Linked DNA regions of Homo sapiens. The protein of the gene in region 3 purifies or fractionates together with the protein of the main gene of each other region. This does not show direct contact. Each region holds a gene or a part of one and is shown on either strand. Other genes may lie near its edges.

Region 1 (3,500 bases), on a different chromosome or scaffold from region 3:
TTTATGTAATTCATGTTTAAGAAAACCAAAATCTGATGCCTACTGTACTCACTATGCCCTCTGGATATCTTTTTAAAAGACTTAATCCCTGGATCAAATAGCCATTTAGACTATTTCAAAAGCTCTAGGTCCCAATCTTAATGTTAGGTAAGCCTTCCCTATCTCTCCAAATGTACATGTACCTCATGTTAGATAACTGACAACCACCAACCTCCAGCTTCCCCTAGATATGCTAGGGACATTGTCAAGACTTGTGGTTACCAGACCTGAGTAAGTTTACTGTTAAGACTCACCAGAGGATATCCTAAGTTCCTTCTCACTAAAAGATTAGTATGAACCTGGAGAATACTGCTTTTGGAAAAACAAATCTTAAAGCAGATGTGTTATATCCAGGCAGAAAAAAATGGTAGAATGCCACAGGTAATCTACAGATTACCAAAAAAAACTAAACCAAGTTTAGATAGAATCCATGTTAAAATCAAGTTTATCTTAGCCAGGCACAGTGGCACGAGCCTGTAATCCCAGCTGCCCAAGAGCCTGTAATCCCAGCTGCCCAAGAGACAGGAAGATCTTTTGAGCACAGGAGTTCAAGGCCTGCCTGGGAAATACAGCAAGACCCTGTCTCTAAAAAAATTATGAATAAATAGAATCAAGTTATCTGGTAAAAATTAAAATCTTAATACATATTTAATTCACAAAATCCTGCATGTGTTTACTTTCATAGCAACGTATTATGCCTATGAACAAAGAGTTAAAAATGGAAAACATCCTGATTTTAGCAGTTAAGTGCTAATATTTGGGGGAAACATTATTACTGACCTAGTATCTATCCTTTAGAGTAATTATAAAGAAAATTATTCTTCCTAATGTATCTAACTCTGTAAATATTTTGTATTTGTTATAAATAATTCCTAATAGTACTGATGAATTTTTCTAGTGATGCTGGGTAATGAGTCAGCATTTACAAAGTGTTTAGCAATTATGAATATTAATCAAAAATAAGAAAAATACTGAACTCTGACATCAAAGAAATCCAAGTAGGATTCCAGTTTGTCTACCACATCATCAATAACTTCTTTTTAATACAGGGAAACCTGTAGTGCACATGCATCCTTATTTCCAGCTAGTGTTCCCGTATCTTTTCTGGAGAGCAACCTGACAATAGGAATATCAAAAGCCTTAAACATGTCCATCTCAGCCAGGCACCATGGCTCACACCTGCAATCCCAGCACTTTGGGAGGCCGAAGCAGAAGGACCGCTTGAGGCCAGGAGTTCAAGACAAGCCTTGGCAACACAATGAGACACTGTCTCTTAAAAACATAAAAATTAAAAAAACAAAATATGTCCATCTCCAGATTTATTCACTTATGAGCTCTACCATGAAAAAATTATAAAGAATCTAATGCCTTTGCTTTCCATGTTCACCTAGAAGGTTCTTCCACAGCTCTGAACAAGTCCTGCACATCCTTTGGCTCTCATTTCAAAGTTTCACTCCCCAGAGATGCTTTCTCCAACCTGCACATTCCGGTTAAGTAAGATTTCTTGGTTGTACACACACTCCTATAAAGCTTTCTTTTCTTTCCACCATAAGATGTCTCAGTCTGTAATTATAAATTAGTTTGACCTATGGTCTGTCTCTCCCAACTGACAAAATTCATGATTACAGGAATTAAATCTGATCTTGACAATCATAGCGTTGTCTTCTTTGGGGTAGCACACAAAGCTTATTATAAACTTAGTACTATAATGGAATATGCAAAAATGGAATGCTTTGCAGTCACAAATGAAACAGATCTGAGTTGATATGAAGGAACACTAAAGCAAGGTATAGGATGTATGCCGAAATCCCCTTTGGATATGGAAATATATATATATATATATATATATATATATATATATATATATATCTCCACTCATATACGCACATACTTTAATACAAATAAACCCTTTCTGAAAACAAACACCAAAAACCTAACCAGAGTAACCTAATGAGAAAGAAGGGACTGGGGGTAATGAGAACTAATTTCCCATTCACCATTACAGTCATGTGTGGATTATATGTTCTGAGAAATGTGTCTCTGGGTGATTGTATTGTTGTTCAAACATCAGAGTATACTTACACAAACCTAGATGGTATAGCCTACTACGCACCTAGGCTATGATATAGACTATTGCTCCCAGGCTACACACCTATACAGCATGTGACTGTATTGAATACCATAGGCAACTTTAATATAATGGCTAAGTATTTATGTGGTGCATGACTGCATTTGGTTTTCCAACACACAGATTTATATAATAATTTCCAATACACAAATTTATTCTGAGATTTGCTAGGTTTAATATATAGTGTCTACTAAACCCAGCAATTGTCAAAAACAGAAACAAAACCTAAAACTTCCAAATTTAAATTTTTGTAACATTTTAATGTGTTCACAGAATGGCTACACTGCTAACCTCAATGTCCATTTGCAGCATTACATTTACAGTTTAAATTCTTAAAATGAAACTTTAGTAAAGAGGATCCAAGACAGAACATTTACAGAACATTAACAGGAGGCATTTACTCCTCCAGAGAAGGCTGCTCTAACCTGCCCATTCTGGCTACATTGTATTTCTTGGTTGTAAGATAGACCTAATTTTCTAGTCAGTTGTAGTCAGATCATTTGGGCTGACATCAACTTTGTAGCAATCTACAAACTAAGACAAACAACTTCTGGCTCTATTTCATCATCTATATAAAGCAGAAAAACATCTGAGGAAGTGGGACCCAAAAATCTGCATTCTAAACAAGAAACTCAGCTTCTGAGAGGTGGTTCTCAGGTAGACCACATTGAGAAACACAAGTTTAGGTTAATACCTGTATTAATATTTTACTGCAGTTGACATTAAATAAAATCAGTGAGAATCTTATTTGTTATACATTAAATTGCATTCCAAGATCTCTGTGAAAAACTTTCATTCCTGAAAGCGACAAACTAGATTATGCAGATCAATTCTACCAATGAAAAATATGGCCGGACGCAGTGGCTCACGCCTGTAATCCTAGCACTTTGAAAGTCCAAGGCAGGCGAATTGCCTGAGCTTAGGAGTTAGAGACCAGCCTGGGCAAAATGGTGAAACCCAGTCTCTACTAAAATACAAAAAATTAGCCGGGCGTGGTTGCACACACCTGTAGTCCCAGCTACTCAGGAGGCTGAGGCAGGAGAATTGCTTGAACCCAGAGGAGGAGGCTGCAGTGAGCCGAGATCACACCGCTGCACTCCAGCTTGGGTAAGAGCAAGACCCTGTCTCAAAAAAAAAAAAAAAAAAAAAGGAAAAGAATTAAAAGTACAGATGTTTTTTAACAAAAACATTTTGTTAAAAATCTTAAAAGCACTGAAATGCTAACAAGATAGTAAGGAATCACCAGCCCAAAACTGAGGGCAAAACAGGAGCAGAAGGAAGGCACTTTTGCACTGAGGTCAACTGCCAATTATCAGCAACGTGAACTTTGGTT
Region 2 (3,500 bases), on a different chromosome or scaffold from region 3:
TCCCACCCATGAGTCCATTAGAAATACCATTCAGAGGCCAGGCGCAGTGGCTCAAGCCTGTAATCCCAGCACTTTGGGAGGCCGAGGCAGACAGATCACCTGAGGTCAGGAGGTCGAGACCAGCCTGACCAACATGGAGAAAGCCCGTTTCTACTAAAAATACAAAAATTAGCCGGGCGTGGTGGCAGGCGCCTATAATCCTAGCTAATCCAGAGACTGAGGCAGGAGAATCGCTTGAACCCGGGAGGCAGAGGTTGCAATGAGCCAAGATTGCGCCATTGCGCTCCAGCCTGGGCAACAACAGTGAATGAAACTCTGTCTCAAAAAAAAAAAGAAAGAAAGAAAGAAAGAAATACCATTCAGCCTCATTGCTGCTGCTGCTTTTGAGATTGACAGATGTCTCTCAGAGAAGCGAGCTCAAATGCTGGGCTCACATCACTGGCTTTCCTATTTTTTAGAACTTGACCCTGCAATTTCTTCATTTCCCTGATAATGCTCTAATCCCCTCACACATAAGCTTTCTATATCTTACATTAAATATTTAATATTTTCTCTAGCTTTTCTGATTATTCTCAGTTGGAAGTTTGGTCCAAACAATCTACCTCTTGCATATAAAATTGTCCCCCCAACTTTTTTTTTTTTTTAAGATGGAGTTTCGCTCTCGTTGCCCAGGCTGGAGTGCAGTGGCGCAATCTCAGCTCACTGCAACCTCCGCCTCCCAGGTTCAAGTGATTCTCCTGTCTCAGCCTCCTGAGTGGCTGGGATTACAGGCGTTTGCCACCATGCCCAGCTACTTTTTTGTATTTTTAGTAGAGATGGGGTTTCACCATGTTAGCCAGGCTGGTCTCAAACTCCTGACCTCAGGTGATCCAGCCGCCTTGGCCTCCCAAAATGCTGGGATTACAGGCGTGAGCCACCGCGCACGGCCGCCCCGCTCCCCCTAACCCTTTTATTTTTTTAATTTGAGACAGAGTTTCGCTCTTTTGCCCAGGCTGGAGTGAAGTGGCACAGTCTTGGCTCACTGCAACCTCCGCCCCTCGGGTTCAAGCGATTCTCCTGCCTCAGCCTCCGGAGTAGCCGGGATTATAGGCGCCCACCACCATGCCTGGCTAATTTTTTTATTTTGAGTAGAGTCAGGGCTTCGCCTGTTAGCCAGGCTGGTCTCGAACTCCTGACCTCAGGTGATCCACCCGCCTCGGCCTCCCAAAGTGCTAGGATTACAGGTGTGAGCCACTGTGCCGACCTATGTCCCTCTTTTTATTCTGAATATTATCTGTGCATTTTCTTAGTACCATGGATGTTTTTCATTTTTATAAGTGTTTTCAAAGACAAAACTTTGTCCCTATTCAGTATTTCTGATGGTTTTTAAAATTTCACTAATTTCTACCTTTTTTTTTTTTTTACTATATTTCCTTCTGCTCTCTTTAGATTGATTTTCCTATTATTTGCAGATAACTTTGCTATTCTCTTTCATGAGATGAATACTTAGCTCATTAATTTTCCTTATCAGTTTATTAAAGACTATAATTTTCCTACTAAGTACAGCTTTACTTGTATCCCACAAGTTTTGAGACATATGATTTCATTATCATTTAGTTCTGAACATTTCTAATTTCCATTATAATTTCCCCTTTGACCCATGAATTTATCAATTCTTTTTGAAAATGAATGAGACTTTTCTAGTTATCTTTTTTTTTTTTTTTCTTTGAGACAGAGTCTCATTCTGTCACCCAGGCTAGAATGCAGTGGCAACCTCAAACTCTGAAGCTCAAGCAGTCCTCCTGCCTCACCTTCCTGGGTAGCTAGGACCACAGGCACATGCCACCACACCAGGCTAATTTTTAAATTTTTGTAGACAGTCTTTCTTCCTTGCCCAGGCTGGTCTTGAACTCCTGCCAGATCCTCCCACCTCAGTTTTCCAAAGTGCTGGGATTACAAGTGTGACCCACTGTGCCAGGTCTCTGGTTATCTTTTTAATTATACTTGTCTCTTGACTTCCAAAAATATAAAATATATAATATATATTATATAAATATATATTTTATGTATGTATTTTTATATATTTTTATATATAAATTTTATATATAAATATAAATATATAAATATATATTTATATTTTATATTATATAATATATTTATATTTTATATTATATATTTTTATATTATATTATATAAATATATTATATTTTTATATTATATTATATAAATATATTTTATATTATATATTATGTATTATATATTTTATATATTACATATATTATATATTTATATAATATATTATATAAATATATGTTTTATATATTTATATATTATATAAATATATATTTTATATTATATATAATATACTTTTACATAATATAATATATATATTTTTCTTGAGACAGGGTCTCATTCTGTCGCCCAGGCTGTCGCCCAGGCTGGAGTGCAGTGGCGCGATTTTGGCTCACTGCAACCTCTGCTTCCGGGGTTCAAGTGATCCTCCCACCTCAGCCTCCTGAGTAGCTAGGACTATAGGCATGAGCCCCACAACTGGCTAATTTTTGTATTTTTTGTAAGGATGGTCTGGAACTCCCAGGCTCAAGTGATCCACCTGCCTCAGCCTCCCAAAGTGTTGGGATCACAGGTATGAACCACCATGCCAGCTAGTTATCTTTTTATTTACTTCTAGTGATCACATTGTGGTGAGAAACTGTATTCGGTATGATACCAATCTTTTGAAACTTGTGGTCTCATATGTGAAAATTTTATAACTGTTCCTTGTGTGTTTGAAAAATATAAGGATGAAGCGGCTGTTACATACAGTTAAGTGTGATATTCAAAGAGGTTAAAAATTCAGGCCAGGCACAGTGGTTCACACTTATAATCCCAGCTCTTTGGGAGGCTGAGGTGGGTGGATCACCTGAGGTCAGGAGTTCAAGACCAGCCTGACTAACATGGTGAAACCTCATCTCTACTAAAAATACAAAATTAGCCGAGCGTGGTGGTGCATGCCTGTAATCCCGGCTACTTGGGAGGCTGAGGCAGGAGAATTGCTTGAACCTGGGAGCTGGAGGTTGCATTCAGGCAAGATCGCGCCATTGCAGTCCAGCCTGGACAACAAGAGTGAAACTCTGTCTCAAAAAAAAAAAAAAAAAAAAAGAAAAGAAAAGAAAATTCAGTGGTAATATAAATTAACATAAATAAAATTTAAAAACATTTTCTAAATAAATTAACCTATATAGATTATAAAAATGCTCACCAGGTGATAACCATTGTAGCTCAAATTGTTCATTAAATCATTCTAGTAATTTTCAATCATTTATTAATTTTTGGAAATTGTAGCCATAATCTTTTATTTGACACAGATGCCCTTGTCTGAACCATGAATTGACATAGGAAACTAGATAAAGCCCTTCTAAGAATGTCCACATTAAATTTATAGTCATTAAATAACTTGTAGTCATGATACGTTAAAAAAAATCACACTTTTTAAAATTTTTTGTAGAGACAAGGTCTCCCTA
Region 3 (4,164 bases):
AGGTCTTTAGACTTCTACGCACCAGGTACCTGGTAGGGGGAGGGATTATAGTGGCAGAAGAGCAGTACCAGTGGCCCACACCACACACCCTGGCCTCAGCTGGCTGGGGCACACAAAACCAGGTGCTACCGTCAACGACTAGGCCCATAGGGTACTGCTGTCAAAACCTGCTGCCAACAACTTCCACACACTCCCCAAAACGCTCGGTAGGCGGTGGTGCGCAGCTTTCAATGCATCCGCCGCCAGGCGCTCACAGGCAAGGGAGAAAGAAGCCAGACGGAGCTCGGAGATGTGGAGGGCAGACGCAGGCGCATTTGGAAAAGGGACTGGCGGTGGGAGGCGCAGAGGGAAAAAGGAACGACACAATCGGGCTTCCTAGCCGCTGGCGGACCCGATGGGGCGTCCTGCGAGGGTTCGGCGAGGGTTCTGCCAGGATAGTAGCATTGCGCCCAAGGAGTGAGAGGCACCCGGGGCTACTGGAGCCAGACCCTCAACCCGCCCTAGTGGGAGGCGAAGAACAACGAAAGCCTCGTATTCCCATTTCTCTAATGGCTAATGACATTAAAGGTTTTCATATGGTTATTTGCCATCTGCATATCTTCAGTGAAGTGTCTGTTTATGTCTTCTGACTATTTTCTAATTGGATTTTTAAAAATAATTGATTTTTGAGTTATTTACATATTCTAGATACTGGTTGTATGCCAGATATATGGCTTGTAAATATTTTCTCCTAGGTAAACCTTTTCAGTATCGTTACAGGGTCTTTCACAAAGCAAAAGTTTTAAATTTATGGAGTCTAATTCATCAACATTTCTTTTTACCGGTCTTGCCACTAATGTCAATTTAAGAACCTTTTGCCTAGCCTTAGACAATAGTTTGTTGTTTTTTAAAACCGTTTTGTAATTTTACTCGTCACAGTTATATCTAGCCACTTAATTTTTATGTAAGGGTTATTTTTGGCGGGGGGGAATCTATAGATGTCCTGTCTTTTCAGTATCATTTGTGGAAAAGATTATCTGTCCTGCATTAAACTGCTTTTGGACTTTCGTCTAAAATCAGTTGGACCGGTTTTTGTTGGCAAAGTTTTGCCTGAAGCTTATTCCAACAGGTGAGAAAAAGTCCACAGTTTAACAGTTCCTCCCCAACCTGTAACCCCGCCTTGAACTTCTGGACTAGCCCCTCGATTGTTGTAGATGCCAAGCGGACCTCGCGCCGCTCTGCGTTGGGCCAGCCCCTCACAGCTGGTTTCTTACCACGTATTGCGCAAGCGGAATCTATGCCTGTTACCCACACTCCCTGCGCCCCCGCACCCCGCTCCTGTGCGCAAGTCGGAATATAAAACCGCGGAGGAGTGAGCTCTTGGGGTGTCCAGTTGGTTGCCGCGGCAGTCTCTCCGAGCAGCGCATTTGTCTTCTAGGCTGCTTGGTTCGTGCCTCCGAGAAAGGTAAGTCTTTCTTTCGCTTTTTTAGGGGTACTTGAAAACAACAAGTGTCAGACAAAGCAGCAGATGCTGTTGCGCAGTAGAAGTTTATGGGCGAGTTGTCCCTGAAACTGGAACCAGGTCTTTCTTGGCGCGATTACGCAAGAACCACCCGCAGCCCTGCGGGCTCCTGGCAGGTCCTGCAACTGCACTTTGGATAGTCCCGTTGGGAAGCTAGCACTTTTTAATATAGAAGAACGAGGTTTGATAAGTGTGCGAGCTTAAAGGTTGACACAGTGTCCACTATTACAGCTGCGTAGGTAGCTAGTGTTCAGGAAGTAATAGTGGAGTCATGTAGTGTGAAAGTAAGATTGAAATGGGCGAGGAGGGTAGCAGCCGCCACAGCCACCAGAGAGAAACCTGACCTTGCAGGTGCGTGGTGATGTCCATGAGCCAGGCTGGTGCCGCAACAGCAGCGGCGGGACCTTGAGCTCCGCACGGCCGCTGGGTTTGGACGCCCTCTGGTTCCTGGAAACTTTCACCTCCCCCTCAGCCTGAGGCCAGGTGGCCTGGGAAGGTGGAAGGAGTGTGGAGGGGAGTGGGGGGGGGGGTCCACTGCCTGAGAATGAGAATTCTCTTCACATCTGGAAACTTCAGTTATCACGTGTGTCCTTTACCAATTTTTTTTCTTTTATTTTCTTTTTGATAGAGACGGCGGTCTCCCTATGTTACCCAGGCTAGTCTTGAACTCCTGTGCTTAAGCGATCCTCCCACCTTGACTTCCCAAAGTGCTGGAATTACAGGCATGAGCCAATGCGCCCGGCTGCTTTACCAATTTTCTATGAATGAATTTGTACATACATCCCCTAGAGCAGGAAGTAATGTAAAACAGAATAATTAGTAATGCACATTTCCTAATGTGGGATGTTGGTGGCCAAGAGATATTTGGTCTTTACTGGAACTCTTGATACTAACATGGAGTTTATAATAGTTGTGGAGAGTGCAGACAAGGCTAGGATTTCTGTGACTAGAGAACTCTTAGTGCGTGAAGACCTAAGGAAAGCTGGATTGTTGATTTTTGTTAATAAATAAGATGTGAAAGATTGCATCACTGTAGCAGAAATCTCCTAGTTTTTTAAGCTAAATTCTATTAAAGGTCATCATTGCTAAAGGAATTGTGCCCAGGATTTGGATAGCTGATGTCATTACTTAATATTAGATGATATCAACTAACCACATCTCATAGACTGGAATAAAGTGCTAGATTTTACCTGAAAGCTGCAAAAATGAATGGTTTAGATATATGTATGTATTTATTTTATATCAATTTCAAATATTTACTGTATTAACCTCCCTGGCCCCCTTTAATCAAGAATATAAAATCATCTACTTAAATTTTGCCACTTAAGTTTAGAACACTCTTAGAATCACACTATCTTAAAGAAGCCAGACTAGAATTAGAAGCAAGTTAAGTCTGAAGATATAACAACCAGCAACAACATTTTTTTTTTTCAAATGAAAACTCTAATATGGGGTGGGTATGTTGTGTCACACCTGTAATCCCAACACTTTGGGAGGCTGATGCAGGAGGATCACTTGAACACAGGAGTTCAAGACCAGCCTGGACAACATAGCAAAACCCTGTCCCTACAAAAAATAAGAAAATTAGCTGGGCATGGTGTCACATGCCTGTAGTCCCAGCTACTCGGGAGGCTGAGGTGAGAGGATTGATTGATCCCAGGAGGTTGAGGCTGCAGTGAGTCATGATCGCATGACTGCACTCCAACCTGAGGGACAGAGCAAGACCCTGACTCAAAAAAAAAAAACAAAAAAAAAAAAACCACCACCAAAACTCTAATATGGACATATTACTCTCTCATGGGACTTGCACATTCTAAAAAGGGTCCTTTTCCCCAGTACTGGGAGAGTATGTGTTCAACTACGCAGCCAGCAAGACAGGCTAGTTTATATAGGGAGTGTGCTATTCACAAAAAGCCTCTCTTCTCTTTCTGGTATTGTACATGACACAATCATAGCTGTACCTGAAGAGAAGTGCATTTTAAGGACCATCATCACCTAGAAACATGTATAAATTTCTATACCTAGTGCCACAGGAATGACATTGCCTTGTACTATTCCTACCTCTGTCCAGAGGCCAGCTATGTGGTCTGTCTGCATGGTGCCTAGAACTTTTTCCATCTGACCTAGGATGCTTCTGAAGCAGTCCCCCTGGGCAGCTGTCTGGTATTTAGGATATACCTGTGAGAAAAGTTTCTTACAAACCTAATCTACTATGTTTATTCCTGAACTCAAAAAGTTCATTGACTGTTCAAATCCTGAAATTTTCTCTATTTCCATAAGGCTGAATTAAAAGTACTTTGTTAAAGGTAGTAGCCATGGCAAAAGAAAAACCACTGTTCTGTAGAAAAACTCATTCAATATTTACAATCTTTTCTAATCAGAGATTAGATCCTGAAGAGAAAGGTTCATATATATATATATATATATATATATATATATATTTTTTTTTTTTTTTTTTTTTTTTTTTTTTTACTCCACTGTCATTGTGACTAAGGATTCATGAACTAAGACCCCTCCCTCAGCTCTTGGTGGCACATGGTGACAGCATGCTCAGAGCAAAGGTGCTCCCCATGCCTCTTCTGGGGCTGCACTGACTGCAGGTACCTCCCCTCTCTACATCCCACACCACTGATACCAAAAACCCCCTCCTTTCTCCTGTACTG

What was found.
Region 1: the proteins of DIRAS3 (region 3) and NAP1L1 purify together in Homo sapiens (affinity purification with mass spectrometry; one large-scale study listed by BioGRID and IntAct). This does not show direct contact.
Region 2: the proteins of DIRAS3 (region 3) and DCAF10 purify together in Homo sapiens (affinity purification with mass spectrometry; 4 studies listed by BioGRID and IntAct, with this or other methods). This does not show direct contact.

What each region holds. Positions count from the first base shown.
Region 1 is NC_000012.12:76,074,686-76,078,185, forward strand, and holds part of NAP1L1 (nucleosome assembly protein 1-like 1), read right to left. Parts: intron 1-3,500. UniProt on the Homo sapiens protein: Histone chaperone that plays a role in the nuclear import of H2A-H2B and nucleosome assembly.
Region 2 is NC_000009.12:37,807,297-37,810,796, reverse strand, and holds part of DCAF10 (DDB1- and CUL4-associated factor 10), read right to left. Parts: intron 1-3,500. UniProt on the Homo sapiens protein: May function as a substrate receptor for CUL4-DDB1 E3 ubiquitin-protein ligase complex.
Region 3 is NC_000001.11:68,047,828-68,051,991, reverse strand, and holds the start of DIRAS3 (GTP-binding protein Di-Ras3 precursor), read left to right. Parts: upstream 1-1,364; 5' UTR 1,365-1,444; intron 1,445-4,164.